Linked DNA regions of Homo sapiens. Changing the gene in region 3 together with the main gene of any one other region gives a genetic interaction. Each region holds a gene or a part of one and is shown on either strand. Other genes may lie near its edges. The genes, in order: HBS1L, PAXBP1, GFI1B and CMAS.

The links.
Region 1: changes in GFI1B (region 3) and HBS1L together harm fitness more than expected from each alone (negative genetic interaction), as found in Homo sapiens cells (one large-scale study listed by BioGRID).
Region 2: changes in GFI1B (region 3) and PAXBP1 together harm fitness more than expected from each alone (negative genetic interaction), as found in Homo sapiens cells (one large-scale study listed by BioGRID).
Region 4: changes in GFI1B (region 3) and CMAS together harm fitness less than expected from each alone (positive genetic interaction), as found in Homo sapiens cells (one large-scale study listed by BioGRID).

Annotation. Positions count from the first base shown.
Region 1 is NC_000006.12:135,046,351-135,054,092, forward strand, and holds part of HBS1L (HBS1-like protein), read right to left. Parts: intron 4,298-7,742; coding exon 4,232-4,297; intron 1-4,231. UniProt on the Homo sapiens protein: GTPase component of the Pelota-HBS1L complex, a complex that recognizes stalled ribosomes and triggers the No-Go Decay (NGD) pathway.
Region 2 is NC_000021.9:32,766,807-32,775,254, forward strand, and holds the start of PAXBP1 (PAX3- and PAX7-binding protein 1), read right to left. Parts: upstream 4,950-8,448; 5' UTR 4,863-4,949; coding exon 4,520-4,862; intron 3,137-4,519; coding exon 3,008-3,136; intron 1-3,007. UniProt on the Homo sapiens protein: Adapter protein linking the transcription factors PAX3 and PAX7 to the histone methylation machinery and involved in myogenesis.
Region 3 is NC_000009.12:132,979,293-132,987,034, reverse strand, and holds part of GFI1B (zinc finger protein Gfi-1b), read right to left. Parts: exon of another isoform or gene 7,218-7,742; intron 377-7,217; 5' UTR 357-376; coding exon 257-356; intron 1-256. UniProt on the Homo sapiens protein: Essential proto-oncogenic transcriptional regulator necessary for development and differentiation of erythroid and megakaryocytic lineages.
Region 4 is NC_000012.12:22,061,766-22,068,958, reverse strand, and holds the end of CMAS (N-acylneuraminate cytidylyltransferase), read right to left. Parts: intron 6,679-7,193; coding exon 6,525-6,678; intron 5,187-6,524; exon of another isoform or gene 5,032-5,186; intron 3,839-5,031; coding exon 3,648-3,838; 3' UTR 3,291-3,647; downstream 1-3,290. UniProt on the Homo sapiens protein: Catalyzes the activation of N-acetylneuraminic acid (NeuNAc) to cytidine 5'-monophosphate N-acetylneuraminic acid (CMP-NeuNAc), a substrate required for the addition of sialic acid.

The DNA.
Region 1 (7,742 bases), on a different chromosome or scaffold from region 3:
TTTTCTTACAAAAAAAAAAAAGAATATACAATAAAGGTGTGAAATTAGAATGGAGCAAACAAAGATTACTTCTAATCATATTAGCTGAAACAAAATACATCACCATTCAAATAAAGTTTTATATGCAAACTCCTTTTGCTACCCCCTACTCTTTGACATAGGTTCAATACTCAGTATCAATCTTTCTAAAAGAAAGAAAAGTTAACGTTTAAAAATCACCATCCTAGGCTGGGCATGGTGGCTCACACCTATAATCCTGGCACTTTGGAAGGCCGACACAGGAGGATCACTGGAGCTCAGGAATTTGAGACAAGCCTGGGCAGCATAGTGAGACCAGGAAAATTGAGCTTAATAGAATTCAAAAAAATATACACGTGCTGATGAATTTTAGAAAGAAATTCCAATTAATTGATAAAGTCTTTCAATTATCAGACTTCATTACACCATGAATACAATCAGCTTTTCAATGACATTAGCTGCTTAAGAATAGAAAATATTCTTCTAAAACCATTCATTTTTTATTGAAAATTACTTGGAAAATATACCACTATAGAGGAAAGTAAGTTTCTTATCTGATGTTACTGCTATTTTAAAATGTTTTGAAAAATTTAAAAATCCAAAGTCGTATGCTTTTGTTAAAAATCAGTTTGTCACAGAAGAAACCAAAAACATTTAACTATCTCCTGCTTTGATAAGATCAGTTGGCTTCTTGGTGTGTTTGAAAAGTAACTCTCAGAGTCAGACTGTCCTGAATACAAACCACAGGTAAGAGCCACATCAAAAGCTATGAGAGACACATGGATAAACTCCGTCTCTGTCCTCAAGGAAGCTAGGCCATAAATGCAAGTCTCAGAGAAACACCCTTTGAAGGTCTGACTTTGTACTATTACCTTATTATTCAAGATAACATAACATTTATCCAGAGAAGCCTAGATAAATGACTGGGTTAACCTGCAATATTAAGGTGTCTTTCAGTAATCCCCCCTCTGAAAGATTCCACGCTTATACAAAGCCATATTCAACCAACTTCCAAGTCCTGCAGACCTCAACTCCTGTAAATTTTCTCTTGAATGTATTTCCAAATCCAATGCTACCAACTCTTGCCCTAAACAAATGGTTCTCAATGCATACCACGAGCATACCCCAGTGGGCTTGTTAAAACATCTGCTATGCCTCACTCCTAGTTTCTGACTCTTGGGTGGAGTCCCCAACATTGCATTTCTAACAAACTCTCAAGCGATGCTGATGGTTCACTTTGAGAACACTGTCCTAAAATAGCCTCATCTCCTCTAGATAAATACATATAACAGTCTCCTAACGAGTCTACTTACATCCACCCATATACCACCTTTAATCCATTAACTATGTATTAGAGATTTTTTTAACTCAAATCTAATATAACCATATCATCTTCTCAGTTCTATATGCCATGCTCTCTAATGTGCTTAGAATGTGAGTGATGAGGATAGCACTACCAGACATCACTTTGTCACCTCTAATATTTAAGTTACCTAGTCAACTGTGATGCTGAATTATAGGAGCCCCAAAGGGCAAATGCCTAGGAGGTTCCTAGAAAAATGTGAAATTGTTTTATTCCTAAGTCACTACAAAATGTCTTCTCTTTTGAACCCCTGAATAAGGAGCTATAAAGGAATGCTGCTTATTAAGCCACCTCTCAGCTTCTAACCTACCATCCTTTACTCAGCTTTGTGATGCTGGATTGAAGTCACTGCAAAGCACATTTCTTCTTTGATACCCGGCTCCCTTTTAGGATCATCCAATAAGGAGATATGAAAGGGACACCGGAAAGCCAGAGAAGGCAGGCACATGCTCCTTTCCTTTTGCTTCTTGTTCCAGTATCACCCCAGCAATACTCACTTCACCTTCCAGAAGCAGTTTCTTCCAGTAACTGCAATTAATATCCGTTTTCAGTTTTTCCAAAACTCCCAGAACCAGCTTCAATTTGCCTCTTCACTCCCCAGACAACACGACCAGCCAGTAGGTTGGAATCCCCTCTTTAAAAGGCGGAATCCCCTCTTTAAAAGGCTGAATCCCAGCTCTAAGATTCAGGGACCTTCTGAGGCACCAGCATCAGCCATGCAGTGCCTCCCTGCCCAGAGGTCTGAGTCCTGGCCCCACAGTCCCTCTTGTGAACTTCAGAGGCAAAGCAGCAAAGAACCCTCTCCTCAAGGTCTAAGTCACAGCTGCAAGGAGCCTCCATCAGCTTCTAAAAGGTGGTTTCAACCTTGCCTTTTGTTCCCCTAAGAACTAGGGACAGTAAAGTGCTTCCTGAACTTACTACCTTCTTGATATCCTGGTTGCACTTTTTGCATTATTTGTTCTATAATACCTCATTAACAACTTTTGATGTTAAATGTTCTCTGATAAAATAACTGGTGCAATTTTTATCTCCTAACAGAATATAGACTGATAACAGTGAAACATTAAAAGATGAGAGGAAAAGCCATGATTAAGCTAAATGAGAAAAGTACTTGACCAGAAGAGCAGGCCTGTACATAAAGAGCTAGATGCATTTCAGAATAACCAGTTAACAGGAAAAGGATGACAGAGTAGATATGATAAAGACAACTTCTAGCATATCTATGCCTTTACAAAGAAAAAGAAATTATAAAAGTCAGAAGGGGCATATTTGGTCTGCAGAGGCTAAAAATAGGATGAAAGCAGGTACAGTTTATAAGACAGCCCAGCGGACTAGAGGGTAATTAAGACAAGGAGGATGTATTAGTCCATTCAGGCTGCTATAACAAAATGCCATAAACTAGGTAGCTTATAAACAGAAATTTCTGACAGTTCAGAGGCTAGGAAGTCCAAGATCAAGGCAGTCTGTGTGTGGTGAACACCCGCTTTCTGGCTCACAGACAGCACCTACTTGCTGTGTCCTAACATGACAGAAGGGAAAGAGTTCTCCTTGGGACCTCTTTCACTAGGAAATTAATCCCATTCATGAGGGCTCTACCCTCATGGCCTAATCACCTCCCCTCCCAAGGGCCCCACCTCCTAATACCATCACCTTGGGGTTAGAATTTCAACATGTGAATCTGGGGAAACAAACATTCAGACCATGGCAGAAGGCTCTGAAAGAAATGTTAATTATATCAAACCTTTAAACTTGTGAAAAATGAGTTTTATAAATTATATTTATGCTATACCCAACCACAGGTAAATATACTATTATACACTCTTTTTATACCATATTAAATTTTTTTTTCCATTTTTTGAGATGGAGTTTAGCTTTTGTTGCCCAGGCTGGAGTACAATGGTGTGATCTCAGCTCACTGCAACCTCTGCCTCCCAGGTTCAAGCAATTCTCCTGCCTCAGCCTCCTGAGTAGCTGGGATTACAGGCACTCGCCACCATGCCTGGCTACTTTTTGTATTTTTAGTAGAGACGGGGTTTCACCATGTTGGCCAGGCTGGTCTCGAACTCCTGACCTCAGGTGATCCACCTGCCTCGGCCTCCCAGAGTGCCGGGATTACAGGCGTGAGCCATCGTACCTGGCCTACACCATACTAAAATTTAGCAGGGCATTTTAACCTGTGTAGACAGTAGGCTGAAATTTGGAGACAAATGTAGTGTTAGAGAAATAAGTGACAGGAGGATCAGGATTAATGACTCAGCCTTTGCTGGGAAGAATATATCAATGTTCTCCTTATATGGTGGCAGAGAAGAAATCTTTGGGCTGATAATCTAGAAGATGCAGCTCTGATGTGGAATTATACAGAAATATGAATGCCAAATTCCTCTGTGGCTCCAAAAGAAGTCTGAACTACATATATTGGTTTATTTACCAAACTGTTCAACAGATAAACTAAAGTACTGTATAAAGGAAAGTCTAGGCATAACACCTCCAAGTTTCTAATACTCAAAAGATCCTTGAGGATATAATGGCTGCCTGCCTCCAGAGGCTTCAGAATTTCATTATTGACTAAATTACCATTTTAGTATATTTAGATTAACTGCATGATGCAAAGTATGGTGGAAAAGAAGCCACAGTCTTTTTCACATTATTTAAAACTAAATAATAGAATCACAAATTTAAATTCTACTCACAGGAAAAGAAATTATTTTATATGCCTTTAATAATTAACATATAATTAACTTTTTAAATGTTATATATTACAGTCTCACAGAACACTCCAGTCCTTGAACGACTAACATTTACATTTTTAAACACCAAATCTAAGGAATCAAATTATTTTTAAAAATTCACCTGTTGACGGCGAAATACAATAATCATCCTCTACAGACTGGCCGTAGAGATCATCATCTTCAAAATCTAAAATAAAGACAAAAGAGATAAATTCATTTACAAGTTCTTTTTATATTCTTAGTTACTAGTGAGGAAGCATCTGAATCCTCTCCAAAATAAACTGTTTATCAAAATTTAAGGATCCTAGAATGTCTATTTTCAAAAAAACTCTTAAGAATTTCACCCACAAAATAGGTTATTTACTAACTCTATATTTATAAAGACATACACAGTTCTTCAGTTGTTAAATTAATTGGGTTTACCCAGGTCCCAAGTTTTCACCTCATAGGATCAAATACAATAATCCTATAAAAAATATACTTGAGGCCAGGCACGGTGGCTTACGCCTGTAATCCCAGCACTTTGGGAGGCCGAGGTAGGTGGATCATGAGGTCAGGAGTTTGAGACCCGCCTGACCAATATGGTGAAACCCCGTCTCTACTAAAAATACAAAAATTAGCTAGACATGGTGACGTGCACCTGTAATCCCAGCTACTCTGGAGGCTGAGGCAGGAGAATCACTTGAACCCAGGAGGCAAGGTTGCAGTGAGCCAAGACCGCGCCACTGCACTCAGCCTGGGCGACAGAGCAAGACTCCGTCTCAAAAAGAAAAAAAAAGAAAAAAAGAAAAAAAAATACTTAGTCTCTCCAGTGTTGACAAAAATCTGAAATAAACCATTTTTTTCACCATGTGCCCTCTAAAACCAAAGCACTTCTCTTCCACAGAACATGGGGGTATATAATAGATCATGAAAGTAGTATTTCTTTATGGAGAGCTAGGTAACATCTATACAAACCAACTTACCCTAAACTCCCTATGCCCACCTGCTGATGGCTAACTGCCCTTTTTTTCTGCTTCCTGGGATATGCTCTTTGCCTAGATTTTCCGAGGCCATTTCTTTCTGCTAGTTAAGGTTCCAGCTCAAATGTCTCCTCTTTGCACAAGTCTTCCCTGACCACTCTGGGTAAAGCAGTAAGCCCCTCTGCTACTGTTACCCTCCAGCACACTTACCCAATTTACAGAGCGCTACGCCTGTTCACTACATGAGACTATCAGCTTCTTCAGGGCAAGACTTGGTTTAGCCAACTACCTGGCACATATGGGGCACTAGATTAATATTTGTTTTATTATAAATTAATGAATCAAACTAATTACAACTAAAAACCCACAAAGAACATAAATATATTTACATAAATTTCATTTGACAAACACTAACACCATGCCAGGGAGTAGTTGAGACAACTGTGGTATAACAGTGAACACATTTCCAGTTATCACTGCACCTAAAATCTGACAAGGAATACACACAAGATAATGGGCAATTACAAAACCATGTGACAAGTGCCTGATGTGAGAAACACAGAGCAATTTGGGAACACACACATGAATGACAAAACTAGAACCGGGAGTGGGGCAGCTAGGGAAAGATCCCCATTAATATAATATCCAAACCAATTCCAAAGGATAGAGTTAGCTAGTTTCTGAGGGTATTCATGCAGCAGGAACAGCATGCTCAAAGGCTGAGACCAAATGCTTACAGCAAAGAAAAATTAGATAAATGCTACTATTGGGCAAAAACATATATGATTAAATAAATTATTAGATCACAATCCCAAGTTAATAAAAATTTATTTGCAAATAAACAAGGGGCCATTCACAAACAAAGTATTTTTAGATATTGAAGACAACAATAGGCCAGGCATCGTGGCTCACACCTGTAATTCCAGTACTTTGGGAAGCCGAGGAGGGAGGATCTCGCTTGGGCAACACAGCCGGATGCTGTCTCTACTAAAATAAAAAATTAACCGGGCATGGGGGCACATGCCTGTAGACCTAGCTACTCGGGAGGCTGAGGCACGAGGATTGCTTGAGCCCAGGAGTTGGAGGTTACAGAGAGCTATGATCATGCCACTGCACTCGCACTCCAGCTTGGCCAACCAACAAAGTGCGATCCTGTCTCTTAAAAAAAAAAAAAAAAGAAAAAAAACTCTTTTTTACTAGGTCAGTTTGTCAATGCTGAAGTTGACCCTAAAGTGCCACAACATATAAAGATGAAGAGAATTCTTTCCTGCAATCTTCATAGTTTGTTTCCTCAATCAACAAAATTATGAAATATTTACCACATGTAAAGAACATTGTGCCAGCTACTTAAAGTATGGATTTTGCCTTCCTGAGACTTTTAAATCAGTGACTGAGGCAGTCATGTAAAGTATTACATAAATTACAGAGAAAAACAAAGTGGGAGTTAAGTAGCGGAACCAGTAGGTTTTAGAACACAAACTCTCTCTAATGAGGTTATATTTCTTAACAGAATTTTTAAATTATTATTCTGAGAATTCAAGAGAAAGCCTAACTGGGAAGAAGAGAAATAAACTGGACCTTAATGAGTACAACTTTTATAAACAAGAAAAGGGGATGAACCTCCTTAATGTTACAGGAACAGCTTGGTTATGATGTCACCAATTGTTTCAAAGAAGCATGACAACATGACAACCTAACCTCAAGAAGCCAAGGTGCTCCCTGAGGCCAACCACCTCTCCTCCATGAAGCATTCCTTAACGTAGAAATCCTGCTTAAATTCCCCCCAATCCATTCTGAATTAAGTGTTCTCATCTGTGTATCCCTCCCATAGCGTTTTCTCAGTACCTTTTGTAGCATTTTTCATACTCTAATAATCTGTAACTCGTATAATCTTCTCCTTTTAGACCACCCTCAAATATCTTACTTTCAGTCCTCAAAGCTTAGAACAGTACTCTAAGCACTAACTTAATGGTGGTTGAGGAAATGATAAACAACTATTAAAGAAATGAATGAATAATAAATAGGCCTATTCATGTACTTTATATTTGCAAAAATCTCTCTCAATCTAAAGTCATTTCTTAGGTGACAATGGTCCACATGCAATACCATCCACTGCAATATTTATTTAAAAGGGCCTCCATTCTAAAGTAACCACCAGAAAATTCACATGTTCTAGACGGACTGAGGTCACAGGTTCCAAATGGAGAACAGGGTGTTAGCTGCCCTCACTCTAGTTAAAGCATACTGATGTTCTATAATAATCTACTGGGGTGCCAATGACAATCACCAACATATTAAGCACTACATGTTCTGCACTTCGTAAAGCATAGTTCTTTATTCTTCTCCTGCATTAGTTCATTTTTGTTTATATTTTTAGTTTATGTGATGCTTGGTGATGCCTATAGTTATCTACTGCATGAAGAGGGATGTGCTCCTCCTAAAAATAATTCTAACTCCTGTTAACTCCTACAGAACATTCATACAGACATTTTTATTTCATTTTTTAATATCAAAAAGTCCTTTCCTATACACTCTTTCCTCTAGTACTGCCGTTTATTTACATTTCAAAATACATTTATATCAAGCATTACCAGCCAAGAACTAAGTATAAACTTCAAGATCCATCTGATCGACTCATTCTTTGGGCCTTTTTAACATGTGTCTTTTCTA
Region 2 (8,448 bases), on a different chromosome or scaffold from region 3:
ATCCATCCTGTCAGAAGCCCTCAAGAGAAACGCTGGGCAATCTTGCCAATAGCCCCTCCTTGGTCCTCACTTTTCCTGACTTTTCTTGTACTAGTTCACACAAGCGACCATCATCTTCCTGAAACATTCTTCTCTTTTCCTCTTTGGCCTTCCTGATTCTTTTATCTCTTTGGTAAATCCCTTCCTCTACATGTAGGCTTACTAGAGTAGAAGTCTTTGGTCTTCAGGAATTTTTCCTTTATATACGGCTCCCTCATCAATTCCATTCACCTTTAATTATCACCGCAATAAGCACCACCCCCAAATCTACATCTCTAGGTATTCACTGACTACTTCCACTCAAATTCAAATTAAAAAGAGAACTCATTATTTTAAGAATATCAGAAAAATGGGGTTCTCAAGTCAATACCGTGGTTATTTTGAAGTTAATTGTCTCTGCCTACTATAGAGGGTTGAAGGTAGGAAGAGTTCTGGATTGCCAATTAATGACAGACCTTCATTTCAGTGTTACCAATGACAACCTACAATACAATCAGACTCCGCCTTCAGAGGACATTAATTGGAGTTATCTAGTGAGTGGAGTATCAGAATTCAATGAGGATAGAAGGATGGAAGAGGTCAGAGATGGCTTCATCAACTTCACACTTGTTTCAATTTCTAAACCCAACAATAAATGGCAACTAATATGGTTTGACTATGTCTCCATCCAAATGTCAACTTGAATTTTATCTCCCAGAATTCCTACGTGTTGTGGAAGGGACCCAGGAGGAGGTAACTAAATCATGGGGGCTGGTCTTTCCCGTGCCATTCTCATGACAGTGAATAAGTCTCACGAGATCTGATGGGTTTATCAGGGGTTTCCGCTTTTGCTTCCTCCTCATTTTCTCTTGCTGCCGCCATGTAAAAAGTGCCTTTCACCTCCTGCCATGATTCTGAGGCCTCCGCAGCCACGTGGAACTGTAAGTCCAATTAAACCTCTTTTTCTTCCCAGTCTTGGGTATGTCTTTATCAGCAGCATGAAAACAGACTTAATACAACAACCATGACAACAGGCCTTTCTCAGTTGTCACTTATCCTGACCTTTCTTTTACTCTCATCATATATAGTTGGTCTCAAGAATTCTGAGGAAAATAAGGCAGTTTCCTAGACTCCAAAATAACCAGTTCTCCTAAAAACATTCCTCCTTCCACTTGCCTTCTCTATTCCTATATATAATTATTCATAACCAAGACACCCTATGGTTTGAGTGTCCTCTCCAAAACTCATGTTGAAATTTAATTGCCATTGTAACGTTATTAACAGGTGGGGCCCTTAAATGGCAGTTACAACATGAGAAGGTGAATGCCATTATCCCAGGCTCCTGATAAAAGGATGAGTTTGGCAGGATATTCTCTCTCTGTCTTGGAGACTCACCTGCCCTTCTACCATGTTATGACAACATAAAGGCCCTTAGTAGATGCCTGTGCCATGCTCTTGGCCCTCCCAGACTCCAGAACTGTCAACCAAATAAACTTCTATTGTTTATAAATTACCTAGTCTGTAGTATTGTTACAGGAGCAGAAAATGGATTAAGACACTCCAGGACAAAAGTTCAAATTTGACTCTTTCTTTTAAATCCAATATGGCAAAGTGTATATTAAGCCTATCAATTCTTCCCTTGGAATGGTTCTCAAATCATTCTTTCTTTCCACTTCTCCCCCTAAAACAACAGAAAACATTTTTAACTCATCCAGAATTTCCTACTAAATCAGTAGAAGCCTTTACTCTTGCTCAACTGTGAGACCTTTTTAAACCCACTATTAATGGATCAAAGCTGGCCCTTGAGTTTAAACTGCTTTAGGCCTCCAATCTCTCCTCATGCTGCATGTTAATACCAGGCTAAAGTTTCAAAACGCATTTATCATGTCACCATCTTGGCAAGCCACTGTAGCAAATGTAAACCCTTACTGGATACTGAACATCCTTCACAATCTGTCAACGTATCTTTCACATGAAACTTCTAACTACTTCCTTCACAAATCATCTACTCTGACCTGTCAGGTGTACTTGTTCTTTTCCAAAACAGCTTTAGTCATTTTAATCCTTGATCATACCCCCAATACCTTCCCTTTCGGAATTTTAACTATCAAAGATCCATCTTCGAGTCCCACTTTTTCCATAAAGCAGTCCTCTCTCCTCTGAAAGAGTAGCCACCCTTTGGAACACTGATTGAACATTTTGCCAAACACTGAGTCCTCTTACACATTTATGAGATATTGTCTTCACATCTAGATTGTAAATTTGAGATACAAAGCCATACTTTTTCACAATAAGCCTGTAAGTGAGAATCTGGAAAATCATGATTTTCTCATTAATTCCATAAAATAAAATAGCATTTGCAGGAGAATAACTCAGACCATAGAATATTATACTGGATCCACTTTCCTAAAGACAAAATAACCGCTTAAAATTTTTTAAACTGAGGTTTTGAGAGACGTAAGAGATGTCTGTACAATATACCTGCCTCATTATTCTAAGGAGTCTTCATCTAGTATCAGATAAGGCTGCTGAATGGGAGTAATACTAATATTAAATTTAGGGCATTCCTAAAAGTTCTCTAAGAATAAAATCCACTGTGGAAATACCACCAAAGAAATCGCAAATCTGTCTCTACAAAATACAAGAATTTGCACAACACTCCTTCAAACAGAAATAAACCTGTGTCTTAGGCTAAAATGAGAAACCTTCTTTCTCTGTTCAACAGCAGTCTGCACACAAGTAGGAAAACTGTGAGAGAATCTAGTCATTGCAGCAGAAATGTTCCAGTGGCAACAATTCTGTCTTCTTATAAAATACATTTACAAAGCATCTGTGTTACAATTAAATAACAGAACTGTACTGCTACTCAATAAGGGCCCTTGACAACCACAGGGTCCACTGAATGAGTTCAGAAGATATACAGCAAATCACTGTGAGAAAGAGCTTTCATTTTGTCATTTCAAAAGAATTCAATTAGTTTGGTACTTACTTTCAGCTGATGAGTTGAGTTCTGTCTTAATCTTCGATTTTTCAAGATCTTCTTTATATTCCTTCTTGAGCAATTTTACTATCTTTTTGCTATAACTTGATTTCTTCACTTTGAAAACTTCTTCATTTTCTTAAAAAGGAAATTAAATGAAGTCTGTAGCAACTATTTTCTGAAAATATTTTCCCTTCTTTCACATGATCTTACGTGCTGTCCAAATTATCCCAAATATATATACTCATATGCCAAAATCATTGTATAATTATTTCAAGTCTGTCACAGACTCAAAAACAGAGGTCAACTTCCTAAATTACTGTGAAGTAATGAGATTTTTGAGACTTTTTAAAGGAATAGCACATGTAACTTCACAAAATTTTCCTATTATTGTCGTCCTTAAATCATCTATTTGAGAGGGGAAAAAATCATTCAAAATGTTTCTGAAAAACCACATCACCAAGTTATTAACGAATCCGAAACAAAATATCTAAAATAAAAAGGTGCTGTCAATTCTGAGTAACTACATCCACCACAAGCTGACATAGTGGTTTTAAAGCTAAGGTAAGGGCAAATCACTTTTCTTTGATTTGAAATTTTAAAAGTACTAAATACTTAAAAAAAAATAGCTCATGTATCTCAAAAACAAAAATCTGTCTGTACTCCTCTCAAACCAAATAAAGAGTAACAGAAATGCCAAAGATAAACTACCTACCTTACTGGAAACCTCTCGAATAAAAATGCAAGATTTACAAAACTTAATTTCTTTTTTCGTAACATGGAATTAACTGGGTTATGCACATTCAAATGGTCAGAAGAAAAGATTTAAGGCTCATTTAAGATCAGCAATCTAAAACCACTGCAGCCTGGCCTCCCACAGGAATTGGAGAAACTACCTTGCTTTTACTATTTTTACACCGTCTCGCTTCACTGTTCCCAAAGTCAGTGCGAAGAAGGCTGGGTATCTGCTACCCCTAATTACTTTTATGGGTAAACTGAGGCTCAGCGACTGCAAGGGACTGGCCCAAGGTCACTCAGAACCAGAGCTGCAACTCCAGGCTTCTGTTCCCTCTCCTAGTATTCCTTTTTACAAACTCGGCCTTCATGGTCGAGGATGCCTGGACAGAGCATCCAAGAAGTGTGGGCGCAGTGACCTGCAGAGGGCTCGGAAAGCATGCCAAGAGCAGCCAGGGGACCCACACCAAGTTGGCCCTGAAACACGCCAGGCAGAAAAGAGGCAGGACAGGGAACACCGAATTTCCCCTGAAACACTCTGAATGCCTGATCTGAGCTCCGGCCCCGTGGCAGAGGAGGTGGTTAAGAAAAGGCTGGGGGCAGCGCGGGAACGCGTCCCTTGCCCGAGCAGAAGGCCGGAGGCTGGGGAAGATTCGCAGCCGGTCGGACGGCAGGGGACTCCGTTCCAGGGCTCCGGGGCTGGGCGTCCAGAGAATACGGGGGCGGGGGACGGGGGCCTGCGTCGGGGATGCGGCCGTCTAAGGGCGTCCGAAGCGCGCACTTTACCTTCCTCCTCGTCCTGGAAGCTGAGCAGGCTGGCCCGGGGCACCTCTTTGTTCTCGCGAGGCCTCTTGCGCGGCTTCAGCCCGTTGCCGGGCTCCGCGCCGCCGGGGAAGCCGCCCCCGGCCTCAGCCCCGAGGCCCGGGGTCAGCGCGGAAGGCGGCGACGGCCCCGGGCCCAGCAGCGACTCCCCGCCAGGGGCCCTGTCGCCGCCACCGGGGCCCGCCTCTTCGCCCGTGCCCGGCGGCGGCAACAACGGCGGCGGCTCCTGCTCCTCATCGCGTTCCCGCTCTTCCTCTTCGGAGTCGTTCCGCTTGCGCACGTTCACCCGCCGGGCCTTTCGGAACATCCCCGCGGCCCGCACGGCGGTCGAATACTCGCTTCCACACCGCGGCCCCGGCAGCGCCGAGCTCGTGACGGCGCACGCGCGCTCTCCGGAGCTCCAGCCGGGTCGAGTCCTCTGTTGCTACCGCGCACCCCACGAGCGCGCATGCGCCTATGCTCCCACGCGCTCTCAATACTTGGAGAAAGAGAGAGAGTGAGAGAGAGAGAGAGAGAGAGAGAGAGAGAGAGAGAGAGAGAGAGAGAGAGAGAGAGAGAGAGAGAGAGAGAGAGAGAGAGAGAGAGAGCGAGAGAGAGAGAGAGAGAGAGAGCGAGAGAGAGAGAGAGAGCCCCACACCTCTCGCGAGAGCGTCGGCTCTTTGCATCGCTCTCTGTCGGAGTGGAGTACTATTAGCATGGAACTCTGGTGTTGTTTGACAGGTCACAAAGAGGATCATAGAGATGAGAAGAAAGAGTAGGCTCTGTTGTCCCTCAGACGGCGCTGCTGCAGTGCGTCTTCGCACTTACGCGGAGCGGTAATGTGAGGAAGCCTCCCGCCAAACAGATGAGGGAGGAGGAGGAGGGGAGAGGCCAGAGAGAGAAGCGGCTTTCGGGAAGGAAAGTGTGATCTAGTAGGTGGAATAGTCCTCTCCAAACTTTGACCTGAGGTGTGACTATTGGTAATTACTAGTTATTCTTGAGTAATACTTTGTATTTCTACAGCTTTATAGCTACAGAGCTCTTAGAAAGACATTGAATTTTATTTATGATACAATGTTACTTCAAAGACATTGAATTTCATTTATGGTACAATGTTACTTCAAAGACATTGAATTTCAGTTATGATACAATGTTACCTGGCTTGATGTCCCCCGTTCCCCAGTCTTTCAGGAACAAGGAAAGCAAAAGTGTTTCCGTGTTTTCTAAAGAATGCCAAGTTTGCAAGCAATTCTATGACTAAATACTTTCCAAAGCTTAGTGAGTTTCAGAAACAAGTGGAAGGAAAATAGAGCAGGGGGTGGGGAAGGTTGTGACAGTTCTCAGACTTGCGTGACAAAGCCCTCGCTGGCCACACCTTCACAGGGTGATTGCGCCTAAGGTTGAACTCACCGGCTTTCCCTATCTCATCACCGAACTAGAAGTTTTTCCTTCGGGCATGCACCTGTGCATGCGAATTCATTTTGATGTTTCGAAATTAAAAGGGTATTCGGTAGAGTGAAAAAAATCCACCCATGTCTGGAAGGCTGTTCACTTCCTCAGTGGCAATGTTAACAGTTTCTTATGATCCTCTAAAGATGTTCCATGAACATAAAAGCAAATAAATATGCATATTTTAATGTGTTCCCCTTTTTACACAGATGGTGTGTAAGCTGCATTTTTAGCCTACCGTAGATTGGAGATCGGCCCATATCTGTATATGAAGGGTTGTGTTTTTTTGGTTTTTTGTTTGTTTGTTTTGAGACTAAATTTCGCTCTTGTCGCCCAGGCTAGAGTGCAATGGCGCGATCTCCGCTCACTGCAATCTCCGCCTCCCAGGTTCAAGTGATTCTTCTGCCTCAGCCTCCCTAGTAGCTGGGATTACAGGCACGTGCCACCACGCCCAGCTAATTTATTTTGTATTTTTGTATTTCACTCTGTTGGCCAGGATGATCTCAATCTCTTGACTTCGTGATCCGCCCGCCTCAGTCTCCCAAAGTGCTGGGATTACAGGCGTGAGCCACCGCGCACGGCCGTCTATTTTTTTTTTTAACCCACCTGCGTAGTGATTCATTGTTGGGATATACCGTAATTTATTTAACCAGTTCCATAAACATTGATATTTAGATTATTTCTAGTCTTAATCAGTGCTGTAATGAAAAGCTTTGAAAAACTGTTACATCTGTAGGATGAAATAGAATTGAAATTGCTAGATCTCAATATATGCATTTATGATTTTGCTAATTCTAAATTTCTTTTTATAGAAGTTATGCAGTTTGCACTTATATCAGCAAACATTAGGATGCCTGTTTGCCCACACCATCCTGTAGAAATTTCAGTAAGATTTAAATTCCAGGTTGAAGTGGAAGATCCCGAGCACTCCAAGCATTTCTTTTTATTTTATTTATTTATTTATTTATTATTTGTTTGAGACGGAGTCTTGCTCTATGGCCCAGACTGGAGTGCGGTGGCACGATCTCAGCTCACTGCAACTTCTGTCTCCCATGTTCAAGCTATTGTCATGTCTCAGCCTCCCGGGTAGCTGGGATTACAGGCATCTGGCACCACACCCGGCTAATTTTTGTATTTTTGTTTTGTTTTGTTTTGTTTTTTAAGACGGAGTCTTGCTCTTCTCGCCCAGGCTGGAGTACAATGGCACGATCTCAGCTCACTGCAACCTCTGCCTCCTGTGTTCAAACGATTCTCTTGCCTCAGCCTCCCGAGTAGCTGGGATTACAGGCACCTGGCACCACACCTGGCTAATTTTTGTATTTTTAGTAGAGACGGGGTTTTGCCACGTTGGCCAGGCTGGTCTCAAACTTCTGACCTTGTGATCCGCCTGCCTCGGCCTTCTGAAGTGCTGGGATTAAGGCATGAGCCACCACACCCGGCCTAATTTTTATATTTTTAATTAGATTTGACATGTGCACAACTAGGACTCAGTTTTGGAGCTAAGAGCATCCTCTATAACATTAACATTTTCTTCTAGTTAATAGGAAGGGTTAATAACATCTGGCTTCCATTCTACTTATGTTACTCTCAGTTCTTATATTCTGGCTGTTCAGCATTGGTGTAAGTTCTGATTCCAACAGTGTTTCACTAGTGAAATTGAACTCCCTTTTCTAATCATAGAAGATTCAAATTGTGCCTGATCAGCCTCCAGACACCTGAGCCAAGAGAAAGATTTGCAGTAAAATAATTAGGGTAGAGGTAGCAAAGACAAGGTCCAGAAGCCAAATATGTTATTATGGTGGCCTGAAATTTCAAAAATTTCTCCCAGTGTAAAAGTGGTGATTGGATATGGATAGAGGGAAGAGTACCTCTCATTTTAAAGTAAGCCACAATACAATCACTTGTCACTTGACGGGGATACATTCTGAGAAATATGCCATTAGGCAATTTCATCACATACTTACACAAACCTAGTGGTGTAGCCTACTACATACCTAGGCTGTATGGCATAGCTTATTGCTTCTAGGCTACAAACCTATACGGCATGTTACTGTACTGAATACTGTAGCACTTGTAACACAATGGTATCTGTATCTAAACATAGAAAAGATACAGTAAAAATACAGCATAAAAGCTTTAAAAATGGTGCACCTGTATAGGACACTTACCAGGAATGGAGCTTACAGGACTGGAGGTTGCTCTGGGTGAGTCAGTGAGTGAGTGGTAAGTGAATATGAAGGCCTAGGTTATTACTGTACACTGCTGTAGATTTTATAAACAACTGTACACTTAGGCTACACTAAATGTTTAAACATATTTCTTTCTTCAATAATAAATAGCTTACTATAACTTTTTTACTTTATAAGCTTTCTTATTTTTTAAAACTTTTTTGTTGTTATTGTTTTGTTTTGTTTTTGTTTTTTGAGATGGAGTCTCACTCTGTCACCCAGTCTGGAGTGCAGTGG
Region 3 (7,742 bases):
GGCCTCCAGTGAGGCCCCACATGCCAGTAACTAAGTACTGGCTCCAACCTGACACTCTCGTCTCCCTAACAGGGCAGAAGGGATGAGGGCATCACTCATTTGTCTACTCCTTTCATCTGCAACCCACAGTTACTGCACTCCTGTTTCCAGACTTGGAAGAAGAGGCTGCTGCAGGAGGGACGCTGCTGCACCCTCATCACGCAGAGCAGAGAGCCCCCCGTGGGTGCAGCAGGCGCCAGCCCGGGCTCTGACTCACCCGGGGTAAGGGCAGGAGGCCAGAGCGGTTCATCTTCCTGCACACGGGGCTGGTGGTAGGTGTGAGCCTTCTTGCTCTTCACCAGGAAGGAGCGTGGCATTTTCAGTGTGCACCCCACACCTGCAAGGGGGAGGGATGGGAGCGGTTAGGAAGGACAAGAGAACAATACCCCTCCATATCTCAGAACCTCCTCCTGAGATAAAACACCAGCTATACTGGGTTGAACAGTGGCCCCCAAAGTTCATGTCCACCCAGAACCTGTGAATGTGACCTTATTAGCAATAGGGTGTTTTTGCAGATGTAATCAAGTTATGATGAGGTCATTCCGGGTTAGGATGGGCCCTCAATCCAAGATGACTCGTGTCCTTATAAGAAGATGGAAATTTGGACCCAGAGACACAGACACCCAGGGAGAACGCCGTGTGCCGACAACAGAGCAGAGAGTGACACTTCTATCAGCCAGAGAATGCCAGGCAGTGCCGACAGCCGCCAGAACTCGGAGCTTCTATCAGCCAGAGAATGCCAGGCAGTGCCGACAGCCGCCAGAACTCAGAGAGGGGCATGAAACCCTCTCCCCTGGCGTCTGCAGAAAGAACCCACTTTGCGGACACCTCGATTTTGGATTTCTAGATCCCAGAACCATGAAAGAATAAATTTCTGTTGGTTTTAAGCCACCTGTTTGTGCTATTTTGTTACGGCAGCTACAAATCCTAACTTCCCTCACTGCTCCTTCACCAGGAAATGAATGCATCGCCCCCTAGAAAACGCTCAGACAAGCCTGCTCCCATTGGCATGACCTGGGCTGCAATGGAGCAGAAAAGGAAAGGCAGGGACTGGGGTCTCCCTCTGTGACACACAGTGGACCCCAATTCTAGAAAGCTACATTTGGGTACCAGTGAGATTCACCTTCAGAGGCCATAGAAACGGGTGGTCTGAGCTTAGGTTTTGGAATCAGTGGTTCGTGGGTTAGAATCTCAGTTCACTTGCTGTGCAATTTGGGACACACACTTAACCTCTCTGGGCCTATCCCCTTTGCTGTAAGTGGGGATGTCCAGGCTTGCAGTGCTGACAGGTGCATCACAGGTGTTCAGTGTCTATCACTGGGGGCTCTGGCAGAGAAGCTGCAGCAAACGAGGGGACATTGCCAATCCACGTGCTCCTGCAAGCCGCAAGCCACAGCCGCCAGAGCACGGCTGCGCCTTGTCCACAGCCCTGGCCCAGAGTCTGTTCCCTAGAGAGACAGGGGCTTTCTCTCTCTGAGGAGTGGGGTGTGGGGACTCAAGACCTGAGAGGACCCCCAACTCCACTGCACCTGGAGGCCTGAGGCTTCATGGACACAGGAGAAGAGGCGAACAGCCCCCAGCTTCCGTGGGCAGCCCAGCATCACTACCAACCCCACCAGTCAGGGAGTGGGAGAAGAAACCAAGGACCACATCAGTCAAGGGACCATCCCAGGCAGAGTCAGGGAGTGACAGGGCTGGACCAACTTGACCACCCCAGGACTCCTGGCTTCCCCTGCAGAGCCCTCTGGAGCTGAGAGCCCTGCCTGGCCCCCAGAATGGTTCACATCCCTGCACTCAGCCTGTGAGGTTCCCCCGGGCACTCTGGAGAGCATCTTCTGGTGGTCCTCTATCCTTTCTGCCCCCACGCTGCACCCAGGCCGACACCAGGCCCATGCCTGAGGCGTCAGAGGAGTCCCACCCCCCCACCCCTTGGGCCAGCCGCCATGCAAGGCTGCAGGGGTGATAGGGTCCGGAGAAGGCGGGAGAGGGATCACAGCTGCTTCAGAACAGCAGTGAGGGCCTGGGTGATAAGGCCTTGGCCCAGGAGCAGGGTGGGAGGTGGGAGATTAGAGAATGCAGCTTGGAAAAGGGCCAGGGACTCACCCCTTCCCCAAGGAGATGAACCACAGCCAGGCAGAAGAGGGACCCGACTATGCCCAGGCCTGCTTCCCCCTGGCCCAGAGCCTGGGGGCATCAAGAGTTTGGACTGGGGGCTCTGCACAGGGGGCCAAGCTCAGGCCCAGCCCTTGCCTGCTGTAAGGCTCATCACTGAGCCTCAGTGCTCATATCTGCTAAACGGGGATCCCAATCCAACCACATGGGATGGTGGGGAGCGAGAAAGGACCTTTATCCATCAGGAGCGAGTGTGAGAGGTGCTCAGCATGTGCTCCCCCGCATCCCAGCACCCAGCCCACTGCAGGTGCATTCAAAGGACGGGGTAAGCCCTGTGCCAAGGGCTGCAGCAGCCTCCCAGAAGCCAGGGCCGCGCTCAAGGCCCTGTACTCTCTGAGCTCTAAAATTAGGAGAAAGGACCTTGAAGGCCTCTGGGGTCCCTTCCCGCGGTCAGATTCTCGGCTCTCTGAACACAGGCTCGGGCCGGGGGCAGCCCACGGCCTTATCTCCCAGGGACACGTCTTCCTCCTCTTGCCTCCTCCCCCTCCCTCACCAGGGCTCCCCACACCCCCCTTCCTTCCCGCTTTTAACTCTTCTTCGCTTCAAGAAAGCCCATGGGGAGGCCAGACCCTAGGGGGAGAGGAGGGGACCCAGTGAGCAGGAGGAGGACTGGGGGTGTGGGGTTCCCCTTGCACTTTGTTTTGAGGGGGCCTGTGAGGGTCATGGTTTGCCTATCAAAATATCAAAAGATGATCCTTTTTTGCGCATAATATTTATGAGGAAATCAACTAGAACCAAAGGTACTCGCCAAGGCTTCTGTGATAGAAGAGGAGCTGGTCAAACCTTCTGGCAGGGGGCTGCTTAGCCTGCCTTGTTTATTACACCTTTAATTCTGATGCTTAATCCAGATGCTGAGTCCCGCTGCTGTCCCATTTTATAAAGAAGGAGCTGAAGCCTGGAGGGCTCAGGACCCTGGGGCAGAGTGAGCAGGGAAGGACTGGGGTCTGTCTGGCCCCAGGCCTCCATGCTCTTGACTTTCAGCCCAGCAGGTGGGCAGTTACTCGGTGCAGAATGGGTGCCAAGTGCTGGGCAGTGCCCGGCATGGGCTTCTCTCTGCAGAGGGAGTGGAGCCGACGTGCTAGGGATGAAAACAGCAGTTTGAAGCTCCCTCGTGTGCCCGTGTCAAGCAGTGTCTTCCCAGGTTGCAGGTGGGAAAACTGAGGTGCAGAGAGGAAAGTGACTCAGACCCAGGGCTCCTGGCCTGTTAGGATTTTACTCTCAAGCCACTGTGCCACCCAGCACTGTCAGAGGTCCTCACAGCACCCGGTGAACACCGCCTGCAGCACAGAGGGAAATGCAGGGTGCTGGGGCAAGAGGGGAGAAAAATCAGGCCGGGTGCAGTGGCTCACACCTGTAATCCCAACATTTTGGGAGGCCGAGGCGGACGGATCACAAGATCAGGAGTTCGAGACCAGCCTAGCCAACACAGTGAAACCTCGTCTCTACAAAAAATACAAAAATTAGCCGGGCATGGTGGCACTTGCCTACAGTTCCAGCTACTCAGGAGGCTGAGGCAGGAGAATCGCTTGAACCCGGGAGGCGGAGGTTGCAGTGAGCCGAGATCACACCACCACTGCACTTCAGCCTGGGTGACAGAGCCACACTCTGTCTCAAAAAAAAAAAAAAAAAAAAAGGAGGGAGAAAAATCAAACCCTCTGACCCTCAAGTCTTTTCCAGGCTCCTAAAAGACCCACATGGCTCCTGAAGAGTCTTGGTGGGGCCAGGCCAGGGACAGACTTCCCTTCAGGAAGCATTGGTATTCTCCTGGGCTCAGGGCCTAAGGAGAACCCAGGTCAACTGACTCTAACCCTGGGCCCCACAACAAGGACACTTTCTAGCGCTCATGAGCCCTGGCCAAGCACTTTTCACTTAGGCACAGGGCAAGATGGGGCTGGCTTCTGGGGTTCTCCAGCCTCAGGAAGGTGATTCTCATGCTTCTTCTAGTGATCTCCCCTGAGCCCCACACCCGCTTTCTTGCCTCCCCCCAGTGTTCTCTCCCCTGAGCTTGGCAAGTGACAGTGACACAGCCAACGCCACGGCCAAGCCCTCTGGCTCACAGAGGGGCCAAATGCACCCGGTGAACTTCCTTTTGGCCCCTGTTAGCAGAGTTGTTTTTTTTTTAAAGAAAAAACAGGAACCAATCACCTATACTGTAGTTAATTAACAACCACTTGGTTTTGATTGACATGAACTCCGTTCTGAGAAGGAGCTAAGAGCAGAGATTATGAAAGAAGCTCAGGAATTCTTCATAAAACAGAGGACTTGATGGTATCGGACCTCCGGAAAGAGGCTCACTGTTATCACTCCATAACCCCCGATCCTGATAGAGTCCCCCTGACCCTGAGTCAGAATCTCAGTCAGTGCTTCTTGAAGACAGGCGACCCTGCACCCTGGCAGGAGCCAGCACCCTAACTTCCAGTTGGACTTGGGTCAACAGGCCTGTGATGTCCCTGTAATGAGGCCCCTTTGTTGCCCAAGGAGTTGAGTCTGATTTGGGGTCCTGGAGCTTGTGACCGCATCAGCCACCAACCTGGGGCTTGGTTTTCCTATCTCTTAAAAGGGACGGTTGGGCTAAGAGATTTCTAAACTTCCCTTTTGCTCTAAAATCCCATGTAGAATTCGTTGACCTTCAGTGAGAGATTGAACCACCTTGACTAAAAGACTTGTCACTCGGGTTCCCCTTTTGGGAGGGTTGGGTAAGACTCAGCTGGTTCTCAGGGTCAGCTACAGAGAACCTTTTTGACTTCCTTTATGTTTAAAGACTCAAGGGAGGCCGGGCGTGGTGGCTCACGCCTGTAATCCCAGCACTTTGGGAGGCCAAGGCAGGCGGATCACCTGAAGTCAGGAGTTCAAGACCAGCCTGGCCAACATGGGGAAACCCCGTCTCTACTAAAAATACAAAACTTAGCTGGGTGTGGTGGCAGGCACCTGTAATCCCAGCTACTCGGGAGGCTGAGGCTGGAGAATCACTTGAACCCAGAAGGCGGAGGTTGCGGTGAGCCCAGATGGCGCCACTGCACTCCAGCCTGGGTGACACAGCGAGACTCTGTCAAAAAAAAAAAAGATTCAAGGGGAAAACAAGACTTGTCCGTGGAGGAGTCGGGGGAAAATGAGCCCAGGTCAGGCCCAGGGGCCCCAGCAGAAAGTAATCATCATCATCATCACCATCATTATTATTATTATTTTGAGACAGAGTCTCACTCTGTCACCTGGGCTGGAGTGCAGTGGTTTGATCTTGGCCCACTGTAACCTCCACCTCCCAGGCCCAAGCGATCCTCCCATCTTAGCTTCTCGAGTAGCTGGGACTACAGGCATGCACCACCACAGTTGGCTAATTTTTGTATTTTTTGTAGAGACGGGGTTTTGCCATGTTGCCCAGGCCGGTCTAAATCATCATTTTTATTTGAAATTTAGAAGGAGTTCTCAAATGTCTCCTCCAAAGCTCAGAGAATGCAATGTCAAAAGTGAGTGAATCTACTTCTGGGTATAGACCCAAAATCATTGGAAGGGGAGACTCAAAGAGATATCTGCATACTCATGTTTATAGCAGCACTATTCACAATAGGCAAAAAGTGGAAGCAACCCAGGTTTCATGGCAGATGAATGTCCAAACAACATGTGGTCTATGGCCAGACTTAGTGGCTCACACCTGTAATCCCAGCACTGTGGGAGGCCGAGGTGGGCAGATCACCTGAGGTCAGGAGTTCCAAGACAAGCCTGGCCAAAATGGCGAAACCCCACCTCTACTAGAAATACAAAAATCAGCCAGGCATGGTGGTGGGTGCCTGTAATCCCAGCTACCCAGGAGGCTGAGGCAGGAGAATCGCTTGAACCCGGGAGGCAGAGGTTGCAGTGAGCCAAGATCGCACCATGGCACTCCAGCTTTGTGACAGAGACTCTGTCTCAAACAAACAAACAAACAAACAAAATGTGGTCTAGACATATGATTGAACATTATTCGGCCTTAAAAAGGAAGGAAATGCTGGCGCATGCTACAACATGGATGAACCTGAAGGATTTATGCTAAGTGAAATAAGCCAATCACAAAAGGACAAATACTGTGTGATTCCTTATATGAGTCCCTAAAATAGGCAATTTCATAGAGACAGAAATAGATAGAGGTTGCCAGAGGTGAGGGGAAGGGAATGGAAGTTACTGTGTAATAGGTATGAAGTTTCAGCTTTATGAGATGAAACAGTTCTGTGGATGGATGGTGGTGATGGTTGCACAGCCATGTGGGTGTACTTAATACCATTGAATGGTACGCTTGAAAATGGCTAAAACGGGAAATTTTATGTTATATGTATTTTATCAAAATAAAAAGACAAGTGAGTGAATGAAACTCTTTCTGCATATCTCTATATTATAGACTAAAGCAGCTCCCATTGGCTTGAATTCCTGGCAAGGAACACACGAAAAGCCTCCCTCTAGACTAAGAGGGGGTGGTGTTTGCTGATGTTTCAACCAAGGGTCTGGATATTGTGGCACAGACAGTGAAGAATCCCATTTGATCAGGCTGTTTTCCCTGGGTGATCTGGAGCCATCTGGTCCCAGAGCCTTTGAAAATCCTTGTACTGTCCAATAAGATTCCCACCCACCCTACCCTGCCCCGCTGAAAGCTTCGGGGCAATGGTCTGCGCTGGTTTTGAGTGATTCCATTAATCAAACCGAAACCAGGTATAGCTCTCCAATGTTCCCCAAGAACTCTCTTCAGGAAGACCAAACTCTGACAGAAAGAGCAAGGGGAATTACGCATTTTCTTGTCCAAAGAATTCCTTCTGCAATACTTCCGAGGACAAGAAACTTGACACTTTGCTAGACTTGGAAGAAATATTCTGCCTGTTGCCTACTAAGAAACATGCAGGCGCGTCCAGGCGGTCAGGTGCAGCTCAGCTGGCTTCTAATATCTACCAGACTCATGCCCACAGATTGTAATCGAATTTACTCCCTAAGAACTCGTGAAAGCTCTGGACTTTCTCCCCGGAAAAATGTACACGGGCACATACCCACGGCGATTCTGCAGACCTCCTCTTCACAAGTCCTGTTTTAGAGTGAGCATGTCTCCTCAGATGCCTCAACACTTAAACTTGGTTTTTTTTCTCCAAAAATAGGTGGAAAGGGCTAACAACAGCCACAGGGAAAGGCGAGCTGAAACAGTACCTCTCCATGGTCGGTCCTATTGTTCCTGGAGCCTGGGCAGTGTGTGGGAGAGGGCAGCCCTGTCATCTCCCCTTAGTAGGCTCTGGAGGGGAGAGCGCCTGACTCTCAAAGTGTCCTGGGAATTTGGCTGGGCGCAGTGGCTAATGCCTGTAATCCCAACACTTTGGGAGGCTGAGGCAGGTGGATCGTTTGAGGTCAAGAGTTCGAGACCAGCCTGGCCAACATGGTGAAACCCGTCTCTACTAAAAATACAAAAATTAGCCAGGCGTGGTAACACGCGCCTGTAATCCCAGCTACTTGGGAGGCTGAGGCAGGAGAATCGCTTGAATTCGGGAGGCAGAGGTTTCAGTGCAATCGCACCACTGCGCTCC
Region 4 (7,193 bases), on a different chromosome or scaffold from region 3:
TTGACCTGGAAGGTCAACTTCTTGTCAGAGTTTTACATGAATTATTTTTATGGTGGAAATAGATGTAAATGTTCCACCAAAAATGATTTTTATCAGGTAAATATCCACATTTATGAGATAATGCTCCACTGTTAGAATCTAATCAGGTAGAAGAGTGATTTATGTCAGCTGTAAAGTTGTGACAATAACCATATATAATACAGGCATACCATGTTTTATTGAGCTTTGCTTTATTGTACTTCACAGATACTGTTTATTAGAAATTGAAGGTTTGTGGCAACTTTGCATCAAGCAAGTCTATTGGCACAATTTGTCCAACAGCATTTACTGACTTCATGTCTTTGTGTCACAATTTAGTAATTCTCACAATAGTTCAAACTTTTTCATTATTATTATATCTGTTATGATGGTCTGTGAATCTGTGATCTTTCATGTTACTGTTGTAATTGTTTTGGGGGTTGTGAACTATGCTCATAGAGACAGAAAACTTAATCCATAAATATTGTGTGTGTTCTGACTGCTCCACCAACCAGCTGCTCCCTCATCTTTCTTCCTCTTCTTGGGCCTCCCTATTCCCCGAGACACAACAATATTGAAATTAGGTCAATTAATAAGCTTACAATGGCCCCTAAGTACTCAAGTGAAAGGAAGAGTCACACATCACTCACTGTAAATCAAAAGCTAGCAATAATTAAGCTTAGTGAGGAAAGCATGTCAAAAGCCAAAATAGGCCAAAAGCTGGGCCTCTTGTGCCAAATGGTCAGCAAAGTTTTAAATACAAAGAAAAAGTTATAGAAGGAAACTCAAAGTGCTACTTAAGTGAACACACAAATAATAAGAAAGTCAAACAGCCTTCTTTCTGAGATGAAGACAGTTCAAGTGGTCTGGAAAGAAGATCAAACAGGCCACAAGACTACCTTAAGCCAAAGCCTAATCCAGAGCAAGGCCCTAACTCACTTCAATTCTATGAAGGCTGAGAGAGATGGAGAAGCTGCAGGAGAAAAGCAGGTAGCTAGCAGATGTTGGTTCATGAGGTTTAAGGAATGAAGCATCTCCATTACATAAAAATGCAAGGTGAAAAGCAGCAAGTGCTGTTGTACAAGCTGCAGCATGTTATCCAGAAGATCTAGCTAAGATGATTGACGAAGGTGGCTACACTCAACAACAGATTTTCAGTGTTGACCAAACAGCCTTCTGTTGGAAGATGCCATCTAGGATTTTCATAGCTAGAAAAAAGTCAATGTCTGGCTTCAAATCTTCAAAGGACAGGCTGATCCTTTTGTTAGAACGTTAAAGCAGCCATGATTTTACATTGAAGCTGATCCTCAATACCATTCTAAAAACCCTAGGACCCTTAAGAATAATGCTAAATCTACCACGCCTGTGCAGTATAAATGAAACAGAAAAGCCTGGGTGATAGCACAACTGTTTATAACATGGTTTACTGGATATTTTAAGCCAACTGTTGAAACCTACTGCTCAGAAAAAGAGATTCCTTCAAAATGTTACTGCTTATGAACAATGCACCTGGTCACCCACGTGTTCTGATGGAGATGTACTAGCAGATTCATGTTGTTTTTCATGCCTGCTAATACAACATCCATTCTGAAGCCATGGATCAATGCATAATTTCAACTTTCAAGTCTTGTTATTTAAAAAATACAGTTCTAGGGGTATTGCTGCCATCAATAGTGATTGCTCTGTTGGAAATAGGTAAATCGAAAACTTTCTGGAAAGTATTCACTATTCTAGATGCCATTAAGAACATTCATGATTCTAGGAGGCCAAGGCGGGTGGATCACGAGGTCAGGAGATCGAGACCATCCTGGCTAACATGGTGAAACCCCGTCTCTACTGAAAATACCAAAAATGAGCCGGGTATGGTGGTGGGCGCCTGTAGTCCCAGCTACTTGGGAGGCTGAGGCAGGAGAATGGCGTGAACCCAGGAGGTGGAGCTTGCAGTGAGCCAAGATTGCATCACTGCACTCCAGCCTGGGCGACAGAGCGAGACTCCATCTCAAAACAAACAAACAAACAAAAAAACAGAATTCATGATTCATAGAAGGAGGTCAAAATATCAACATTAATGAGAGTTTGGAAGTTGATTCCAACCCTCATGGATGACTTTGAGGGGCTCAAGATTTCAGTGGAGGAAGTAACTGTAGATATGGTATAAATAGTAAGAGAATGAAGTTAGATGTGGAGCCTGAAGATGTAACTGAATCACTGCAATCTCATGATAAACTTGAATGGATGAGGAGTTGCTTCTTACAGATAAGCAAAAAATGTGGTTTCATGAGATAGAATCTACTCTTGGTAAAGATGCTATGAACACGAAGTGACAACCAATAATTTAGAAAATTACATAAATGTAGCTGATAAAGCAGTGGCTTGAGAGAACTGACTTCAATTTTGAAAGATGTTCAATTGTGAGTAAAATGCTATCAAACAGCATCACACACTAGAGAGAAATCTTTCATGAGTCAATTGATGTGGTAAACTTCATTGTTGTCTTATTTTAAGGAACTGTCACAGCCACCTCAACCTTCAGCAACCACCACTGTTCAAGGCAACATCCTTCAGCAGCAGAAAGATTGACTCGCTGTAGGCTCAGGTAATTGTTAGCATTTTTAAGCAATATTTTAAAATTAAGGTATATACACTGTTTATCTGGGCATAATGCTACTGCACACTTAATAGACTACAGTTTACTTTAAACATAACATTTTATGTACCTGGCATCCAAAAAATTCCTATGACTCGCTTTATTGCAACGGTCTGGAACCAAACCCGTAATATCTCTAAGATATTCCTGTATGCAAAATTACCATTATCTCTCAGGGGTAACTGCAAATAATTTGCTTCCTCCAAATAAATACATAATCTTCATAATATATAAATTTATTTGGATATTTGTATTTGTGTATACTGCTGATCCTTGAACAACATGGGTTTGAATTGTGTGGTCCACTTTTATGTGAATTTTTTTAACCATGTGCAGATCAAAAATACATGTGAATCATGCAGTATATGGAGGGCCCACTTTTTGTATATGTGGGTTCAACAGTGTTGACTGTGGTACTTGAGTATGCACAGATTTTGGTATATGTGGGTGGTCCTGGAACCAACCCCCACATAGACCATATGCTGTTACGTATACATATGTGAAGTACAATCAGATGCTCTACCCCGGCATCGAGTGGCTTGTTTCTCACTAAGATTGGTTAATGTTTAAAGGAAAGAAAGAAAATGCATGGTAAATTTCTTCTAGAGCAACAAGGCAGTTTTCATCAAGTTTGAGAAATGTAGTTTTATTAATAGAAGGGCATGTCTTACCATACACACTGTCCCCAGATAAATAAAATCCCAACATCTTTGAAAGCACACAAACACACAGTTTTACAGGGTACAATACAAAGTGAACTTTGATGATGTTCTTACTTGCATTTACTAAAAATCTGAGAAAGACTGTAATCAGTCTCTAAATAATTATCTTGCGTAAAGAGAAAAGTAGAGCACAATATATATATATCACAAACCAAATCACACTCTCTGTAACATTACAACATGGAATTTACTTAATCAAAAATAAAAGCAAACTGGCTGAAGAAGGCTGTATCATTTTTTTCTCAATATTACGCTAATTTCTATTTTTGGCATGAATTATTAACCTTTTCCATTAGTAGGCAAATGTGCTCTGCAAATTCTCGGATGGCACCACGGCCACCATTACATTTGCAAATGTATCCAACAGCCTTCTGGGCAGTAGAACAGGCATCAGCAGGAGCGCCACTTAGGCCCACTCTCTTCAAGCACTCTTCATCAGACACTTCATTTCCTATCAAGTAAAATAAATACTGAGCAAACATTTAAAGAGACAAAGAATATTCTAGCTAAATAATGCAGACAGCAACCAACAGGTAACTCTGGCAACTTCAGTAAGACCTAGGGGCACTGCATATAAGAATACTAAAGATTAGATGGAACAAAAATATTTTACAGTATAATTGAGGTCCAGGGTTTTCCCTAAGCAATCAAAAATAAACTCTTATGAGCTAGAGAAGAAGAATGGAGCATAATTGCTACCTGCCATGCATATTACAAATGTTAGAAATTTTATATATGAATTCTAAGTAAGTTATTTAAATTTTTCATTAAGCAAAATTTCAAACATATGCGAGAACCCCAATTTTATATTGAAAAATTATCAGAATTTAAAATCACTTAGTAATATTGTTTTCTATGCACTGCCCCCTAGTTTATTTGGGGAAAGGGAGAAGAAGGAATTCCCAGACATAATATTTTATCCAAAAACTCTTCAATATTTATCTCTGATAAATATAATTTTTTATCTGACAGAATATCATTAAACCCACAAAATCAGTAATAGTTCCTTAATATCCTCTAATAACCTAGTATATGTTGAGATACCCCCAGCTGTCTCAAAATTGTCCTTTTATAGCTGACTTATTTGAATCAGGAATGAAATAAGGTTAACATATGGTCTTTTGTTTATATATATATAATCTCTTAAATCTCTTTTAATCTGTAATGGTTCTGATTGGTATGCCATTTATTAATAGTTGCTGAAAAATTACCATTTTTAAAGAATAAAAATAGATACTAAATCATACTGACATAACGATATCCTTTTCCTCCCTCTCTGTTAACCCCTTTTTTGGAATAGGATGCATTTCAGAAGCTCCCAGTATCTTTAATTCACCATTCTGAGTAAAACTATTACTATACTTTAGACCACATACAATAGTACAATCTTGGTTGAAGAGAGTTTCTTTTACATTTGTTCTATGCTTATCTACTGAAATTTTCTCATTTATTATTAAATGTGTTGAAATTTGAATCGTTTTCACTAAAATAAAAAAAGTTAGTATTTGCATAATCCAGCCTTTAAGCTCTATTTACTAAATTTTACTTATAAAAGTATTGATTTTTTTAAGAAATATATTTTTATACACTTATGTCACCCATATAAAACATTGGTGAGTGAGTTATTATTTTTTTTTTTTGTAGACATGGGGCCTCACTATGTTTCACAGGCTGGTCTAAAACTCCTGAGCTCCAGGGATCTGCCTGCCTCCGCTTCCCAAAGTGGTGGGATTGTAGGCATGAGCCATCATGCCTGGCCTGCTGTGAGTTTTAAATAAAAATGTAAATGCTCTTCTCCATTTTCTTACCTCTCCTTTTAAAGTGTGTGTGTGTGTGTTTTTTTTTTAATGTCATATAAGTAATACGTATTCGTGGTAGAAATATTTTTTTAAAAAATAGAAGCAAAAAAGTCACAATCATCCTAATTATCACTATTTGTAGATAATCACTACATTTTGACACATATAATTCTAGAGTTTTACCTATATAAATGATACACTTATTACTATCTGTAGGCACTATGTTAAGCATTTTATATTATCTTTGTTTTTCTTTCTAATGGCTTTATAAAATTTGGTTTGTGTTTATATTCTAAGTAGAAAACTAAGGTATACAGAAGCTTGCTTAACATCCCAAAGAAAGATAATAAGTATAGTTGGAATTTGTTATACATTCCACTAAAATTTTCTTCTAATAAAAATTGGATCTGTCTTTAACAAACATTCTGCAGCATTTATGTCCATTAAATCTTCATGTGTGGTTTAAGGGTTATTCCTGAAGTCTCTAGATCACATGCTCCCAAAGTTTTTCCTGTGCTTCTTATTTTGAGGCTCATATTACCCTTGTAAATACTGCTTTCATACATGATTTATAGTTATTATGCATCTTAATAACTTATCAATTTTAAAATGTTGACATCATCAGACTGTAAGCTCTGCAAGCAGAAAGCCTACAGTTCCCACAACCAGTTCCATGCTGCGTATCATCATAGGTACCTGGTAAGTAAGTGTATTGCTTAATATCCAAGTGAAAAACATTGTTATATTTGATCATGCAAATAAATACAGGTCACAGCACTGTTTGTAATGGTTGCATAGTAATCCTTTTTAGGGATATTCTATTTTTCACAGGACATTTAAGTGGGTTCTTTTAACTTCACTATTGGCCCATTTGTCTCATTTCTTTCCTGGAATTGGAATTTGGAGGAAAAAGTATGTACATTCAATTAGCAGCAAAAACTATTCAGAGTGTAATTCATATGTACTAGAAATTCTGCTAAGTGCTTTACTCATATTATTTTATTAATCCCTTCCAGAGCCCTACGGTAATAGGTACTCTCGATATCTCCAGTTTACAGATGAGGAAACAACATTCATCTTATCACAACTGGCTAATCAGTGGTACAGTCTGACTTCACAGCTTGTGCTAATAATCATTCTACATTTGATACCTATTATCAAACTAACCTCCAGAAAGACTGTCCCAGTTTAACAGTTTGATCAGCAGTGTTTGTTAAAAGAGTTCCTATTTCCCTACAATCATACCCATTTGGAGGATGTGCTTTGTCATTTCTTTAAAAATAAGTAAATAATTAATTCCTGGTCCATTTTACTATGGGTGAATAAAAAGATACCAACCAAGATATGCCACTTCTTTCCAGCACAGGCCCATTTCTTTTCTCCATTCATCTACAACTGCTAGCTTGTCTGATACACTGACTTCCATTTTGCAATCCAGTTTTAAAGAAGACAGCGTCTGCTTTGAACAGGCCCTTTCTGAGATTAGCCTCACCTTAAAAAAAAAAAAAAAAAGGATTGGAGGAAGAAGGGAAAAATTAAAAAGTGAAGAAAACAGAAATCTTTCATAATAATTGACCTTGTAGACAGTCCAAATCACAAACGAGTCATCTTTTGACTTTCTGAAGGTCCAAGTAAGAAAACTGACTGTCGAATTAAAATCATGATGCTTTAAAACAAAGCTCATTTTATTTCTCATAGCCCAATAAAGGTGAGACACAGTATTTTATTTTCTACAATAGAAAGGATTCTATCTACAGGTAAAAATTACAACATATATTGTCTGATACTACTCTAAGATTCTCCTATAATTCAATTTATCCAGAGGAAAGTCTATAACCTCTCTCTTGTGCTGCTTAGCAATACATATTTAGGATTTCTGGTAAATTATAATTATCTTAGCTAGCTTTCATTTAAAAAAATACACTTAAACGTTAAGTTATTTTGAATCAAAAATGTCATTCATAAGAATAAGCTAGATTTTAAAAATCCACAGGATATCGTCCTTTT